2 separate regions of the Homo sapiens genome follow, and region 2 is linked to region 1. Evidence: fine-mapped QTL for protein levels in blood plasma. A gene starts in region 1. The other region holds a variant in brackets. All regions are shown on one strand. Distances are between the middles of the regions. Region 1 holds the start of DDHD2 (DDHD domain containing 2). Region 2 overlaps DDHD2 (DDHD domain containing 2).

The links. A credible set is the group of variants that fine-mapping cannot tell apart. PIP is the chance, under the fine-mapping model, that this variant and not a neighbour inherited with it causes the effect. The UK Biobank Pharma Proteomics Project read protein levels with antibody pairs (Olink). The fine-mapping took linkage between variants from a reference panel, not from the people measured, so its PIPs are less certain.
Region 2: its variant is the best candidate, but not a certain one, in a credible set for the plasma level of the DDHD2 protein (UK Biobank, PIP 0.74).

What each region holds. Positions count from the first base shown.
Region 1 is chr8:38,228,131-38,236,467 of GRCh38, reverse strand. DDHD2 (DDHD domain containing 2) reads right to left here and starts at 4,883. Exons shown (of 18, transcript NM_015214.3): 1 at 4,609-4,883; 2 at 3,254-3,481; 3 at 1,884-2,074. The coding sequence starts at 3,473. RefSeq lists an enhancer at 4,082-4,581 and silencers at 4,241-4,910, 5,481-5,530.
Region 2 is chr8:38,257,547-38,265,883 of GRCh38, reverse strand. DDHD2 (DDHD domain containing 2) reads right to left here. Exons shown (of 18, transcript NM_015214.3): 17 at 5,737-5,844; 18 at 3,048-5,284. The coding sequence ends at 5,763. It overlaps PLPP5 (phospholipid phosphatase 5), which reads left to right. Exons shown (of 7, transcript NM_001102559.2): 7 at 1,280-2,754. The coding sequence ends at 1,440. Among named protein-coding and RNA genes, the nearest start is that of PLPP5, 7.5 kb to the left of the region's middle. The variant ACAAG/G (reference allele first, on the strand shown) is at 4,846.

The DNA of each region.
Region 1 (8,337 bases):
CAGGAAAAGTGCTTGAACCCAGGATGCAGAGGTTGCAGTGAGCCGAGATCGCACCACTGGACTCCAGCCTGGGCAACAGAGTGAGACTCTGTCTCAAAAACAAAAACAAAAACAAAAACAAAAAAAGCAAAAAAAAAAAACCAAAAACAAGAAAAAGGCTGGGCGTGGTGGCTCACGCCTGTAATCCCAGCACTTTGGGAGGCCGAGGCGGGCGGATCACGAGGTCAGGAGCTTGAGACCATCCTGGCTAACACGGTGAAACCCCGTCTCTACTAAAAATACAAAAAATTAGCTGGGCGTGGTGGCGGGCGCCTGTAGTCCCAGCTACTTGGGAGGCTGAGACAGGAGAATGGCAAGAACCCAGGAGGCAGAGCTTGCAATGAGCCAAGATCGTGCCACTGCACTCCAGCCTGGGAAACAGAACGACACTCTTGTTTCAACAACAACAAAAAATACTAACGCTCTACTCCAATTTAAAGAAAAATTTCAGTTTTCAGAGCAAGAAAAATAAAAGCTAAAAAAGATCAATCCTGTGACCATAGCATAATACAGTTTGCATTTGTATTTGTGTGTGTGTGTGTGTGTGTGTGTGTGCGCGTGTACTTTTTTTTGTAGTGGTGGGGTCTTGCTTTGTTGCCCAGGCTGTTCTCAAATTCCTGGGCTCAAGTCATCCTCCTGCCTTGGCCTCACAATGTGCTGGGATTACAGGTGAGAGCCACTGTGCCCACCAGTTTTTTTTTTTTTTTTTGAGATGGAGTTTTGCTCGTTGCCCAGGCTGTAGTTCAATGGTGCGATCTCCACTCACCACAACCTCCACCTCCCGGGTTCAAGCAATTCTCTTGCCTCAGCCTCCCAAGTAGCTGGGATTACAGGCGTGCACCACCGTGCCCAGCTAATTTTGTATTTTTAGTAGAGACGAGGTTTCTCCATGTTGGTCAGGCTGGTCTCAAACTCCCAACCTCAGGTGATCCGCCCACCTCAGCCCCCCAAACTGCTGGGATTACAGGCGTGAGCCACCAGGCCCGGAGTATTTTTTTCTTTTTTTACACCTTAAAACACCACAACCATTTCCATCGTATTTTAAAATCTGAAAAAGGCCAAGCACAGTAGCTCACACCTGTAATCCCAGCACTTTGGGAGGCCGAGGCCAGCAGATCATTTGAGGTCAGGAGTTCGAGACAAGCCTAGCCAACATGGTGAAACCCCATCTCTAATAAAAATCAGTAGGAACAACTCTCCCATTACAATATTTTCCTTTCAAGGATTGAAAAGGGGAAAAGAAGTACATATTTCAAAATAAATCTCCCAACATACAATTCTGAGTTATATTCTAAATAATGTTATGAAACACATGAATGAACAGTTCCTACTTGGCTAAACACCAAACAAAATGGAATCTAATTCATATCTTTTTCACTACCTACTTTACAAACCGTCAAACCATTCCTGATTTTAATGAAACATGAAAAAAAATACTACCCAAACAGTTTTGTTCTTTTTCTGAGGAAAGATAGCAGTGCCCCTTAAAAAAAATTAGCCAGGTGTGGTGGCGGCCACCTGTAATCCCAGCTACTTGGGAGGCTGAGGCATGAGAATCACTTGAACCGGGGAGGTGGAGGTTGCAGTGAGCCAAGATCGCACCACTGCACTCCAGCCTGGGCAACAGAGCGAGACTCCGTCTCAAAAAAAAAAAAAAAATCTGAAAATAAGACTACTTTATCCTGAAACTTGCTTGTAAATAGAAATGCTTTATTATGTTTTATAATGTGATGCAGACAGAACCAAAGTCTTTCTGGAAATTTCACAAAATAAATTACAAAGGAAAGAAAAGATTATTAAATAAGAGAAAGAAAGAATAAGTAAAAAAAGAGTCAAAAGAATACCTCTAAAACTTGGCTGAAGCTCTCCGAGTAGGGAACATACTTATTGTCTTTGTCCCCCTTGTAAAACCACGTACATCGTCTCACTTCCGATGCCAGTTCATCCCAGTATACAGCATACCGCATCCTCTCCCCCAAATGAACATCATATCTGCCCCCATCAGTAGGAACAACTCTCCCATTACAACCTTTTCCTTTCAAGGATTGAAAAGGGGAAAAGAAGTACATATTTCAAAATAAATCTCCCAACATACAATTCTCAGTTATACTCTAAATAATGTTATGAAACACATGAATGAAAAGTTCCTACTTGACTAAACACCAAACAAAATGGAATTTAATTCATATCTTTTTCACTACCTACTTTACAAACCGTCAAAACCATTCCTGATTTTAATGAAATATGAAAAAAATACTACCCAGTTTTGTTCTTTTTCTGGGGAAAGATAGCAGTGCCCCTTAAAAAAATTATATAATGTGATTTTTCTGAATTTGCTTGAGGAACCATAAGGTAAATTAATAACCATCATGATGATTCAGTATAAATAGAATCATTCTTGTTTTATAAAAGAAGAAAAGACAAGTGACAAGTTAGAGAGTTCATTCTTCTGCACCCCACTCTATACATACTTTTTTCTTTTCTTTTCTTTTTTTTTTTTTGAGACAAGTCTCACTCTATCACCCAGGCTGGAGTCCAGTGGCACAATCTTGGCTCACTGTAACCTCCGCCTCCCGGGTTTGAGCAATTCTCCTGCCTCAGCCTCCCAGGTAGCTGAGACTACAGGCACAAACCCCGCCGCCCAGCTAATTTTTGTATTTTTAGTAGAGAAGGGGTTTCACCATTGCTGGCCAGGCTAATCTCAAACTCTGACCTCAAGTGATCTGCTCGCCTTGGCCTCCCAAAGTGCTGGGATTACAGGTGTGAGCCACTGTGCCCAGCCTTACACATTCTTTATAAAACAAAGTAAAACATAAGCTAGAACATTAAAGATATTACTGGGGGGCTGGGCACAGGGTGTAACACGCCTGTAATCCCAGCACTTTGGGAGGCCCAGTCAGAAAGATTGCTTGAACCTAGGAGTTCAAGACCAGCCTAGACAATATAATTAGGCCCCCAACTCTAAGGAAAAAAAAATTATTGGGTAACTATGCAGAAATAATAATAGATACTGTTTTCAAAATACAGACCAAATTCTTGAATATTATTGATTGGCTAGGTATTAGTGCAGAAGTTCTATATAAAATGCTGTAAGAAATTATGTAACTGGAAAAATCTAAAATTTGGTTTTCATAGCACTCACTATAAGGACCATTATATTATAGTTTGAAGAGGGGAGAGTCTTTGTCTATTCCAAGTCATAATTTTCACCTACCAGAGCTATATGCCTCTTCCAGCTGCTGTGAATCCTCAGAGTTGAAAGGAATCCATGTCTCCTTAGAATCTATTATCTTACAATAAAACCAATGGGGAGAAACTGGTTCATACAAGCTGCCAGCATCCATGTCTATTAGCTCAAAGGAACTACATGAGTTTGGTGACGGAGATGGATCTGACTGGGACAACTGCTCCTGTTGTGACTGCACTGATGACATTTCGCTCTCTAAAGACAAAAGAAAACTATCAGGAAAACGAACTTAACTGTGTAACTGTTCGCACACACACACGCACAAAACTAATCATTTTACGGAGCCATTTCTGCAACAACAACAACAACAAAATCTACATAATTTAAAAGAGAAATAACATAAATTAGCAACTGGATGGGTGGAAGCTTTAAATAAAATGCTTCTATTAGATCAACCATTGCACAGAGTTCTCAATTCTCTCAGTAAACTGGGTAATTTTACTCAGTCCATAAGTTATAAAACAAACCCAGAATCACAGGACCACATGCTCGAAACTAGATTGCAACAAAAACATTTTACCCTAATTTCCAATCTAAATGTAGTTAAAGGCAGAAAATTTACTCCAAGTCAGCTGGGTCATGCCCTGTCCTAGTAACGCCAAGGTTTTGGGCTCCAGGCCCCTACCATTACACAACTAATGGAATCTTAAAATACAAAAAATAAAACTGTTCGCTTAGGAACCAATCATTTTTGATGGATCCTTGAAGTCGCTTAATGGGTGGTGGTACAAATTGGGAAAAGACGAAACCTCGCCTGGGGCCACGGTGCGCACACGCACGCCCACTCCCATAGCCAGAATCTCAGATGAAAGCTAACAAGCGACCTCAAAAGCCTCCTCCCGCAGAGGCGGCTCTGACCAGCTGTTTCTACCTCTCCAACACTCCTTCCACTCGGCAACGATCAGCGCCGCAGGCACCAGAAGGACACTTCTAAGCTGCCTCGTAGGGCGGGGGGCAGGAGGGCATCTCGCGCGGGCCCGGCGGGACGGCAGACGCCGGCTTTCGGCTCCATTGTCCTTTTCCCCACACAGACTTACCTCAGCCACCCTGGCGCGCCCCTGGCCCCCGCGACCCTAGGCCCTGGCGCCCCGCTCCGGGCCCTCGGAGCTCGGGCTCAGGTCGTCCGCCCGCAGCCCCGCGACAGCAGCAGGGCAGCCAGTGCAGACCACAGGGTTCACAGGGTGCCCAGGGTTCCCCCAGGCTCGGGGCTTCCCGGGAGCCGAGGTTCCCCCGCCCCGCATCCCGGCCCCGCAGCGCTGCGCCGCCCACCTGCACCCAGCCTGGCCTCCCTCGGTCCAGCCGCCCGCCCGACGCGGTCTCACCTGGCGGCCCCGCCACTCCTCAGGCTCTCCTGCCCTCCCTGAGGAGGACACTGCATGGCCCGGCCGCGGCCTTTACCCCAGCCCGGGCGGGGCGCGGCGGAGCAGGGCGGAACCTGCAGCCCCGCCGGGCTCGCGCCGAACACCAGGCGCCACGGCGCTCCCAGTGGGCGAGTAGCGGGCCCGGATGCCAGGCGAAAAGGTGAGGCGGCGGGGAGCGCGGCGCGCGACCGCGGGTGGGGCGTGCAGGGCCGCAGGGCACGGGCGGCAAGTGTCGCGAGAGGTGGGGGGAGTCGCGCGAGACGTGGCTCCTGCGGGCAGGGAGCTGCAGCGCCGGGCGGCGGGCTGCTGGCTGCTGAGGTCTAACAGTGGGGGAGAGTTTCGAGTGTCCGTGGCGGAAGGGGCTTCGAGATCAGTTTCTAGTATCCGTGACGGCAGGGGCTTCAAGATCAGTTTCGAGTGTCCGTGGCGGAAGAGGCTTCAAGGCGGCCCCTCACGTACGGGGCGGGAAAGTCGGAATGATCCTCGGGATACGCTACAGACCCTACTAGTGCGCCAGGAGCAGCGCGGTGATCACCGGACGCAGGGACTGCGCGGCCCCGGGATTAGCGGAGTAGGGCGGAGGGCGCAGCCACAGCCGCCCCGCTCCTGGCCTCTGCTTCTGGGTGCTGAGAACGGGTGTCACTAGCATTTGCCAGGCAAAAAGGCTTTGGCCCGTCCTCCGTGCATTTATTATGATTTAGAGGTTACCAAAAAGGTATCCCTAAAAAATGTAGAGGTGTCGGGCGTGGTGTCAGCGCCTGGGTCTGAGCTACTCAGGAGGCTGAGGCTGAAGGAGCGCCCCAGCCCATTGGTGCCAGCTGCATGAGCCCAGATGGCGCCAGTGCACTCCAGCCTGGGTAACACTGCGACACTAGTCTCTAAACAAACAATAAAATTAATAATTTTTTTTTGTTTTGTTTTGTAGAGGCAACCTTAACAGGATTTAAAAGATGCCAGGGAGGTTGGAGATGAGATACTGCTGTCCAAACAGGAAGACATAACTGAGGTGAAAAGTTGAAAGGGGCTGGACGCAGTGGCTCACGCTTGTAATCCCAACACTTTGGGAGGCCAGGAGTTCAAGACCAGCCTGGCCAACATGGTGAAACGGCATCTCTACTAAAAATATAAAAATTAGCCGGGGGTGGTGGCTCGCGCCTGTAATTCCAGCTGCTTGGGAGGCTGAGGTGGGAGGATCACTTGAACCCGGGAGGCGGAGGTTGCAGTGAGCCAAGATCGCAGCCACTGCACTCCAGCCTGGGCAACAGAGGGAGACTCCATCTCAAAAAAAGAAAAAAAGAGAAATTTCCCGCAGTCATGAGGTCGAGTACAGGCCCTGCCCGACTCTCCTTAGTATTTCATTTTAATACCTTTTGGTATTTAAAAAGATATTTTCCTATATTCTAACTAGATTATAGGGCATTTTTTTTCAGTTTTTGTGTTTTTGTTTTTTGTTTTTTGTTTTTGAGACGGAGTCTCACTATGTCACCCGGCTGGAGTGCAGTAGCACGATCTCGGCTCACTGCAACCTCCGCCTCCCAGATTCAAGCGATTCTCCTGCCTCAGCCTCCGGAATAGCTGGGATTATAGGCATGCGCCACCGCGCCCAGCTAATTTTTGTATTTTTACTAGAGACGGGGTTTCACCATGTTGGCCAGGATGGTCTCGATCTCTTGACCTCGTGATCCACCCGCCTCGGCCTCCCAAAGTGCTGGGATTACAGGCGTGAGCCACCTTGCCCGGCCTATTTCAGTTTTGTTATTTCTTCACAAACAGAAAAAGAAAACAATTTTTTATAACACATTTATTCTCTTTGCAAATTAACAGCCACACACAAATATCCCCAAGTTAACACCTTCCCTTCAAATTTATTACACTTAGAATAGCTTCTGCAAGGCCGGGCACAGCGGCTCACGCCTGTTAATCTCAGCACTTTGGGAGGCCCAGGCAGGCCGATTTAGCAAGGGGTGGAGCTAAAATCACGAACCCACACAGTGTGACTTCAGAGCCTGCACCTAAGTAACTTGTCTAAAATCAGTCAGGTAAGTGACAGAACTGGAACTTGAATTTAGGTTTTCTATCTTCAAATCCTGTTGTAGCCTCCATACCAGCTGTTCTCAAATTTGGAGGGCTGTCTCAAAAAAAAAGTGGATTGCAATGTGCAGTTTGAAAATATATCAGTAAACTTCACATATTCTGATACTATTAAAATCCATTTTTCTGTCTTGCACTTTGTTTTATTTTTGTTGTTTTGAGTAAAGTGAAAGCAAGTTTATTAAGAAAGTAAAGGAATAAAAGAATGGCTACTCCATAGGCAAAGCAGCCTATCTTGCACTTTGAATGGATCTCTTACCCATGTGTGACTTAAGACATGTATTGTTCATTTGGGAAAGTATCAGTTCACTGAGCTATGTAGATCTTCCAAATGTTAATATATTTTATTATACAATTTTTTAAAAATTACCGATCTCATCAGAAAAGTCTTTAATATTGGGAAGCTGTCAAGCTCAGAGTAGCAGGTACAAGTTTTCCAATATTCTGCTTTTTTCTTAAAAGGTCAAATTTTATCATTGGCAACAAATGATAAATTGTCTTCCTTGAAGTGACAAGTCTCCTTTGTTTTCAAATAAATTTCTGCTAAATACTTACATACAAATAGCCATAGTTTGTCCCTTATACTTTCAAATAAAAATGATGTTGCATGAAAAAAGAGCATCTAGTTCAGCTTCCAATTCAAATAGTCACTCAAGTTCTTTTTCTTCAAGACACCACCATCTTACTTTTGGTATGCAACAAAATGGTTTTATGGGCCACAGTGACTCATGCTGTAATCAAGCACTTTGGGAGGCTGAGGCTGGCGGATTGCATGAGTCCAGAAGTTTGAGACCATCCTGAGCAACATGACGAAACCCACCTCTAAAAAAAAAAAAAAAAATTAGCTGAGCATGGTGGCACAGACCTATAGTCCCAACTACTCAGATGGCTGAGGCGGGAGAATGGCTTGAGCCCAGGAAGGGGAGGTTGCAGTGAGCCGTAATCACTATATCTGGTTAATTTTTAAATTTTTCTTAGAGACAGGGTCTCACTACATTGCCCAGTCTGGTCTTGAACTCTAGGCTCAAGTGATCCTCCCACTTCGGCCTCCTAAAGTGCCCAGCAGGAATCTGCATTTTAAATAGTTACCACACATGATCTGGATGCAAGTATTTGGGATCCACACAGTATAAATTTTAGGTTCCCCAAAAGTCTGCATACATAGGTAGTTTCAGACAAATAGAATATCTTACTGTGCCCCTTAAAAATAAAAACCCATGGCCGGGCGCGGTGGCTCATGCCTGTAAAAACTTTGGGAGGCTGAGGCGGGTGGATCACGAAGTCAGGAGATCGAGACCATCCTGGCTAACACGGTGAAACCCTGTTTCTGCTAAAAATACAAAAAATTAGCCAGGCTTGGTGGTGGGCTCCTGTAGTCCCAGCTACTCAAGAGGCTGAGGCAGGAGAATGGTGTGAACCCGGGAGGCGGAGCTTGCAGTGGCTGAGATCTTGCCACTGCACTGCAGCCTGGGCGACAGAGCGAGACTCTGTCTTAAATAATAAATAATAAAAACACACTTAATGTTACTGGCTGTTGTTTGTGGTTGTATATCAGCCTTTTACCAGACAAGCCTTAACAGGTAAAATGTAAAACAATCT
Region 2 (8,337 bases), 29 kb before region 1:
AAACCTCAAAGTTCAATTTACTCTCTTAAAAATCAGGTTCATTGTCATAGGACTTTTGTTCAAAAACATAAGTAAAATTCAAGAAAACATAAAATTATAATTAAACCAAACAAATTTAAGCTGAATGCTATAGTAAGTAAAATATCCAAATTACAGAACACCTGGCTTGGCGCGGTGGCTCACACCTCAGCACTTTGGGAGGCTGAGGCAGGCGGATCACCTGTAGTCAGGAATTCGAGACCAGCCTGGCCAACATATTGAAACCCCGTCTCTACTAAAAATACAAAAATTGAGGCCAGGTGCAGTGGCTCATGCCTGTAATCACAGCACTTTGGGAAGGTGAGGTAGGTGGATCACCTGAGGTCAGGAGTTGAAGACCAGCCTGACCAACAGTGAAACGCTATCTCTACTAAAAATACAAAATCAGCTGGGCATGGTGGCACACGCCTTTAATCCCAGCTACTTGGGAGGCTGAGGCAGGAGAATGGCTTGAACCTGACACAATTCCAAAAAAAACGCTGGAGGTATTGCCCACAGGTCCTCAGGAACCCTATTTTAAATTTTTAAATAAACTAGTTTTTTGCAAAGAGAAGCAACTCTTTTTTTTTTTTTTTTTTTTGAGACAGAGTCTAGCTCTGCGCCCAGGCTGGAGTGCAGTGGCACCATCTCGGCTCACTGCAACCTCCACCTCCTGGGTTCAAGCAAGTCTCCTGCCTCAGCCTCCTGAGTATCTGGGATTACAGGCACATGCCACCACGCCCGGCTAATTTTTGTATTTTTAGTAGAGACAGGGTTTCACTTGTTGGTCAGGCTGGTCTCAATCTCCTGACCTCGGGATCCATCTGCCTGGTCCTCCCAAAGTGCTGGGATTACAGGCGTGAGTCACCGTGCCCGGCGAGAAGCAACTCTTAAAATACTTTATTCCTTCCTCTAGGACCCTTTAAATGGTGAAAATGGGCAGATGAATAGCAATAAGTGGACCTTTGTTACTCTTCTGAGTTAGAAAAATTCTAATTTAGTACACTCTGAACAAAGCTTATTATACTTACTTAAGATGTGTTTTGATTTGGTGTTCAGAAAGCAACCTGACAATGATAATACTGTAACTATGATAAAATTGAGAATAAAAAGATTTTATTTAGAAATCATAAGTCTGGAATTGAGGTTATTTTAGCCCCACAGTAGAGTATCCTGGAGGGCCAGGTCCTCTATGCTATGTGTATGTAATAGGATTTAGGAGCCTAATATTAAGAGAAGACCTTGTTTCCACTCTCTTCAGATGTACTAGTTGGATCCATGATTGGAATGACATTTGCCTATGTCTGCTATCGGCAGTATTATCCTCCTCTGACTGATGCAGAATGCCATAAACCATTTCAAGACAAACTTGTACTTTCCACTGCACAGAAGCCTGGGGATTCTTATTGTTTTGATATTTAAAAATTGAATCTGGCCGGGCGTGGTGGCTCATGCCTGTAATCCCAACACTTTGGGAGGCTGAGGAGGGTGGATCACCTGAGGTCAGGACCAGCCTGGCCAACATGGTGAACCCTGTCTCTACTAAAAATACAAAAATTAGCCAGGAGTTGTGTGCCGTAATCCCAGCTACCTGGGAGGCTGAGGTAGGAGAATTGCTTGAACCTGGGAGCTGGAGGTTCCAGTGAGCCGAGATCGCACCACTGCACTCCAGCCTAGGCAACAGAGTGAGACCCCATCTCAAAAAAAAAAAAAATTGAATCTATCTCAATAGAGAACAGGTGAACTAGCCCTCCTAACCGGACCATGCACAAGACAAGAAATTCTAGCCTTTTTTTCCCCTTCCAAGGTGCAAGTGAGGACATAAGCCACACTGTATTCTGCCTCCAAATGATTACACACTTTTGCCCCTGCTCATCTATCTTGAGGAGTTACGGTTCTTTTCCACTACTGTATGCCACATGTTCTAGTAAAAGGATCTTTCAAAGGTGTCCAACACCTTATGAATCTGGTCTATCAGATTAATATCTGAAGATCTACAGTGTTTTTACATTTAATTTAAATGCCATTCTTAGAAGGATCTTGTCACAAAGAAGCCTTTACATAGCCCCACCTTGTCTCAGAAGCTAGAGTTCATTATCAAAACTTAATTTCCATTTCATATAGCTCAAAATCTTAAAATCTAGGGCATGGCCAACTAAATTACTTTGATTCTGTTTACCTTCTCTGATGACAATTCCATCAAGCCTTAAATAGGAAAATGTCGAATCTAGGGTAATTTATCACTTTTGTGTGCATCTTATCTGAGTCCAGCCATCTGGTACTGCTGTGCATTTTGAACACCGTGGGCATAAACAATTTGTTGAATTACTAAGTGAAAACAATAATAAAGAAGAAAATGGTCAGGAGTGTGGTTTCAGCACTACTAACAGATGACTGTTTCTACCTCATTTGACCATAACTGTACTTGTGAGCTTCTTTCCTTCCATTCATGACTGAAGATCTGCTCAAATGCACCAACACTGCCAAGTGACTAAGGTAGAAAAGAAAAATGACAGGTATCGTCATCTGAAGGACAGATGAATCTTTTTCTGCCCCTTCTTCACAATGGAATATAAGGAACAATTATGGGATGTCATCAGAATGGATGCCATAGGACCTACAGCTCCCTTTCTCTTTATTGTGATTATACTTTAAATATGACATTGTCTTTTATGTGTATGTTCCTATATTTTCAATGTATCTTTTTCCTTCAGTAAACCTGATATTCAAATAAAATGGTAAATGTGTGCTTTTTTAAATATTTAAAGTACATTAAGGGGCTGGAACTTTAGTAAAGCAAAACATTGAATTCCCCATCCGCCCTAAGTGATTCAACTGCTGTTATCTATAGTACTGGCTAATATTTATAAATACCAAAGGAAAGTCTCTTATAATTGCCATGCTTTAAATTCTGAACTTAAATTCTGCCTATGACAATTAAAATACCAGTCAACAGGAAAGAACTTACATATTAGTTCTTTGCCCAAAACCTATTTTTTTGTTTTAGTAATACATAAAGACAGAGAAAATCGTGACTGTACTGATTTTCTTGACTTTGAGACGGGTGAGTCCAGGTAAAAGTAGGCCACTAGTCAATATGGTTTCATGTTAGTATTTACTAAAGTTTTAAATATAATCACGTAGAAAACAAACATTTCAAAAATGCAAAATATTAGAAATCTAATCAGTGCTATTAATCTTTCCATGCAAACAATCTCTTTTGCTGAGATAAGTGATACTAGTTCTGCAGCTGGGAATATGTACAAAATGATGCTGTACCAGAGTTTAAAAATAGGGTTGGTCTAGAGATTGCACATGATACAAATGAAGCAGCGCAAATAATATATGACTAAATACAGGATTTCAATCAAGCTTATCATCCTGGGAATATACAGCTATAATACCATGAATAGACAAGATATAAAGCTCTTTCACAGTTACCCACCCCTCACCACTAGGAAAGAAACATTTCTTAATACAAAGAGTGGTTTATCTGGCTATCCAGGGCTATGCTGTCCATCTTTGGTTATAGGGACTCCCTCTGCTTATCCTTTGGTTTACTCTTAAATAGCACCTATTCTGCCAATAGGAAGAGTAAACATAAATTTGAAGACCACAACTTGGCAAAAGCTTCCCCTTAATATACAGTGAATACTTAATTCTCAATAACTCAGAGTTTATATACCTTTAAAAAAATAAAGTATTCCATATATCTGAAACTTAGTGGCATACTTAGCACTAGACTATAAGCAGATGACAAAGAAAGGCCAGGCCTGACCTATACCCCAACCTTACCTCTACAATCTCCATGGTGACAGTAATTACCCTTCATTTTCCTTTTCTTTCCAGAAAGGGATAAAGACCACTGCTGTCTAAGGAATGGCTTCAGTAAATATTAAATGTCAGTGGCTTTGAATACCATAACATTTATAAAAAAATTTATAAACAATAAACCACAGCTCGCCTGCCTTTGCCACTCTATAAACAGAGGCCTGTGGAATCTGAGAGCAAGTATAAAGGATTATCATAAAGAGAACTACAAAGACAATGACAAACTGACCAATGAAGAAGAAAAATCTACAGCAAAGTAGTGAAAAGATGCCTTGACAAAATTAGTGTGCAGTCACTTGTGTTCTTAGAAGTAAACCTCACTTCATATGTTCCAGACTCAGCTGACACTGACTCTGGAATAGCTGTTTCTTGGACCCTACAGACATAAGTTTTTCTTTCAGAACAAGTTAAACATTTCCCCCTAGCCAAACCTACCTGCTCAACCAATGCTGCCCGTGCCAAGAGCCTTTTAAATATGCTTTGTGGATTATGGATACCTAAGAAGGAAAGAGGATACACAATACTACCTTAGCTCAAGTAGAAATGGCAGGTGACAAATTCTGTTTCACCATAAAGGCACCACTAAAAGGTTTTATTTAGAACCTCAGCAGCCTGTAGAGGCTACACAATTTCAGGTTCATCAGCTTTTACAACTATTTTCAACGTAAGAATAGAAGCTATTAGCAAATAACTTCTATCAAATATAAAAGGGAGGCCTAGGATATACAACATCTTTGCTTTATAAAGATGCACCTAACATGAACTAACTTGTCAACTTTAGACTCTTACAGCAGCTCAAACAGTTGCAAAAACAATGAACATCAGTGATTTCTGGCAATAAGTCTGTCAGTTCTAAGAGAGTAAACAACACTTTTTTAAAGCTACATTCTAGTCTTTCTTCATACACTACACATAAGAAAGAAATGCAGGTTCAAAAATAAATCACCCAAAAGTCTTTTCCATGTCCACTGAGACTTAGCCTTCAGTTCAACACAA[ACAAG/G]AGATAAGTGTACTCCAAAATGCCTTCTGAATCTCAAGAATCTGTTTCCAAACTAGAACATTTTCTAAAGATAAGCAATAAGTTCCTTAAAAACATGTCTACCCCACCCAAAACAAATCAAACCCAAAATAGGCTTTACACCCTGTCAAGTACTAATCAATAAAGTGTGGCAACTATAAACTATCATCAAAGAATTAAAGACACAAACCACCCCCAGCTATGCAGAAAAAAATGGCAAGTGTTTATATGAAGCCAGTGGTTAAAAGTAATAGGGCCTTTTGCTTTTCCATTCATTTCCAAAGAGGAAGATTATCTTCCAAAGACCCCAGTGGTGAGTAAGTGGCAGGCAACATGCAGGAAATGACGCAGCTGAGGAGAGGAAAATTGCAGCAACAAACAGGTGGATTTTCTGGGGAAGGATCCCTCAATGTCCGTCTAGGGAAGAAAGTGGGAGAAGAGCTGCAGTCACAACTGGAAGGCAACCACAGAGAATGCCAGAGTCGAATACACAGACTTTGTAATTTCACATCTAAAAGGCTGAGTAATTTAAATCTCAGGATGGGTGGTTGGTAATTAAAATCATAACTGTTGCCACAGTAACTCTTAGATAACAGAACCATTAAAACTCTGAGTTTAGATCCTAAAAAATGACAGGTGTCATTGGACAAAATCTCTAGCAAAACAGACATACACTAATCTTCCTCTAAATGGGCTACTGTGTTTTTTTCCCCATGAATTTCTACCAGTCCCTCTAAAAATGAATAGCAGCCTAGATCTTGGTGACAGGCAACAGCTAGTATATTTAAAAAGAGCTTGAGGCTCCATAGTTCATTATAACATGTTAATATGTAAGAATTACACTATATATATGACATTTTAAAACTTACATTAAGCAGCCATAGATGGGTCATTTTTACTGTAAAGGCTGATCAAGGAAGATACCCTGGGTTTGGTAGATCTCTTTGAGGACGAGCAATACTGTATCTTCAGACTCCCTATAAAGAGAAAAAATTATGTTGAGAAAAGGAACTAACACTTGTGCCAAATGTTTTACATATATTATCTCATTTAATCCATACAACCATCTTGCAAGTTTATTTTTTACTTCTGCAAAGAAATGAGATTCAGAAGTAATGTAATTGGCAGTGGTTTGGAAGGTGACCTGGCAAAGAACTCTGGCATTAAGTCTAGTAATATAAAAAAGCTAGGAAGAGAGGCCAGGTGCGGTGGCTCATGCCTGTAATCCTAACACTCTGGGAGGCTGAGGTGGACAAGTCACTACAGGTCTGGAATTTGAGCCAGCCTGGCCAACATGGTGAAACCCCATCTCCACTAAAAATACAAAAACTAGGGCTGGGCACGGTGGCTCACGCCTGTAGTCCCAGCACTTTGGGAGGCCAAGGTGGGTGGATCACAAGGTCAGGAGTTTGAGACCAGCCTGGCCAATATGGTGAAACCCCATCTCTACTAAAAATACAAAAATTAGCAGGGTGTGGTGGTATGCGCCTGTAGTCCCAGTTACTGGGGAGACTGAGGCAGAAGAATTGCTTGAACCCAGGAAGCGGAGGTTGCAGTGAGCCGAGATTGCACCACTGCACTCCAGCCTGGCAGATAGGCGAGACTCCGTCTAAAAAAAAAAAAAAAAAACTAGCCAGGCGTGGCAGCATGCGACTGTAGTCCCAGCTACTCAGGAGGCTGAGGCAGGAGAATCGCTTGAACCGAGGAGGCAAAGGTTGCAGTGAGCCGAAGGTTGCAGAGTGTCACTGCACTTCAGCCTGGGCGACAGAGTGAGACTCCATTTCAAAAAAAAAAAAAGCCAGTAAGAAATAACCAAGAATTGTTCCTTTTCCACAGAGATCATTCTAGAGACACTATTGAAGAGTTATCCAGTTGGTCACCTTAATTTTTAAAATATTATGCACTTTTTGGAAAAGGTAATACAATCATAAGGTTCCAAATTCCAACAATATAAGAAAGTAACGAAGTCTCCCTCCCACCTTTGTTCCTCAACCACCACCAGTTCCCATCTTCTGACAACCAATGTTATCAATTTCTCATGCGTTTTCCAGATATTATTCTACGTATGCACAAGCAATTACTTATATCCACACTTCATAACAAAATTTGATTTAAAAAGATTAACACTCATGAGGGACTGCCTTAAGGATATAAGCCTCTATTATTCTTCTAGATCTGTGGTTCAACATTTATTGAGTCATGCATCCTTTTGAGAATCTAATGAAATTACGGATTCTTCCCCAGAAAGGATCACATTGCAACCACAATTATAAATGTGTATTTCATTGGATTCACAGACTTCCCTCATCTCCCACAAACTCATATACACAGACCCCAGCTTAAGAAATTCCTGTATCAACAAGTGGGAATTAGCTCTATCAGATATTAAAATGGTACATAAATAAGCAAATCAACAAGTAAGAAGTTGAGAAATAGTCCCATTTATGTATAGGAATTTAATTAAGTGGCCAGGCACGGTGGCTCACACCTATAATCCTAACACTGGGAGGTCGAGGCAGGCAGATCACCTGAGGTCAGGCGTTCGAGACCAGCCTGGCCAACATAGTGAAACCCCATCTCTACTAAAAATACAAAAATTAGCTGGGCATGGTGGCACATGCCTATAGTCCCGGCTACTCAAGAAGCTGAGGCAGGAAAATCATTTGAACCCAGATGGCGTAGGTTGCAGTGAGCCAACTACTGCACTACTGCACTTCAGCCTGGGCAACACAGCAAGACTCTGTCTCAAAAAAAAAAAAAAGAATTTAATTAATTTAATTTAGAATCTCAAATCTATTAATAGTGTTGAGACGTGGGGAAAAAAGGACCTGAATCTGAATCAAAGATTTATATGTAAAAATTAGATATAAAATATTAGAATAGCCAGGCATGGTGTTGCACACCTGCAGTCCCAACTACTCAGGAGGCCAAGGCAAGAGGATTGCTTGAGCCCAGGAATTCAAGGGTCTAGTGCACTAAGATCATGCCTGTGAGAAGCCACTGCATGCAAGATCCTGTTTCTAAAAAAAATTATATATATAACAATATACTGTGTTGGCTGGGTGCAGTGGCTCACGCCTGTAATCCCAGCACTTTGGGAGGCTGAGGTGGGATCACTTGAGGTCAGGAGTTTGAGACCAGCCTGACCAACATGGTGAAACCCTGTCTCTACTAAAAAGACAAAATTAGCCAGGTATGGTGGTGCACACCTGTAATGCTGGCTACTTGGGAGGCTGAGGCAGGAGAATCACTTGAACCTGGCAGGCAGAGGTTGCAGTGAGCCGAGATCACACCATTGCACTCTGGCCTGGGCAACAGGGTGAGATTCCATCTCAAAAAAAAAAAAAAAAAAAATACTGTGGTAAGAATTTTTTTGGAAAGTAAGGAAGATCTTTCTGAGTATGACACAAATTCCAGAAACCAAAAAGCAAATGACAACACATTTGATTACATAAAAATAAAAATTTTGA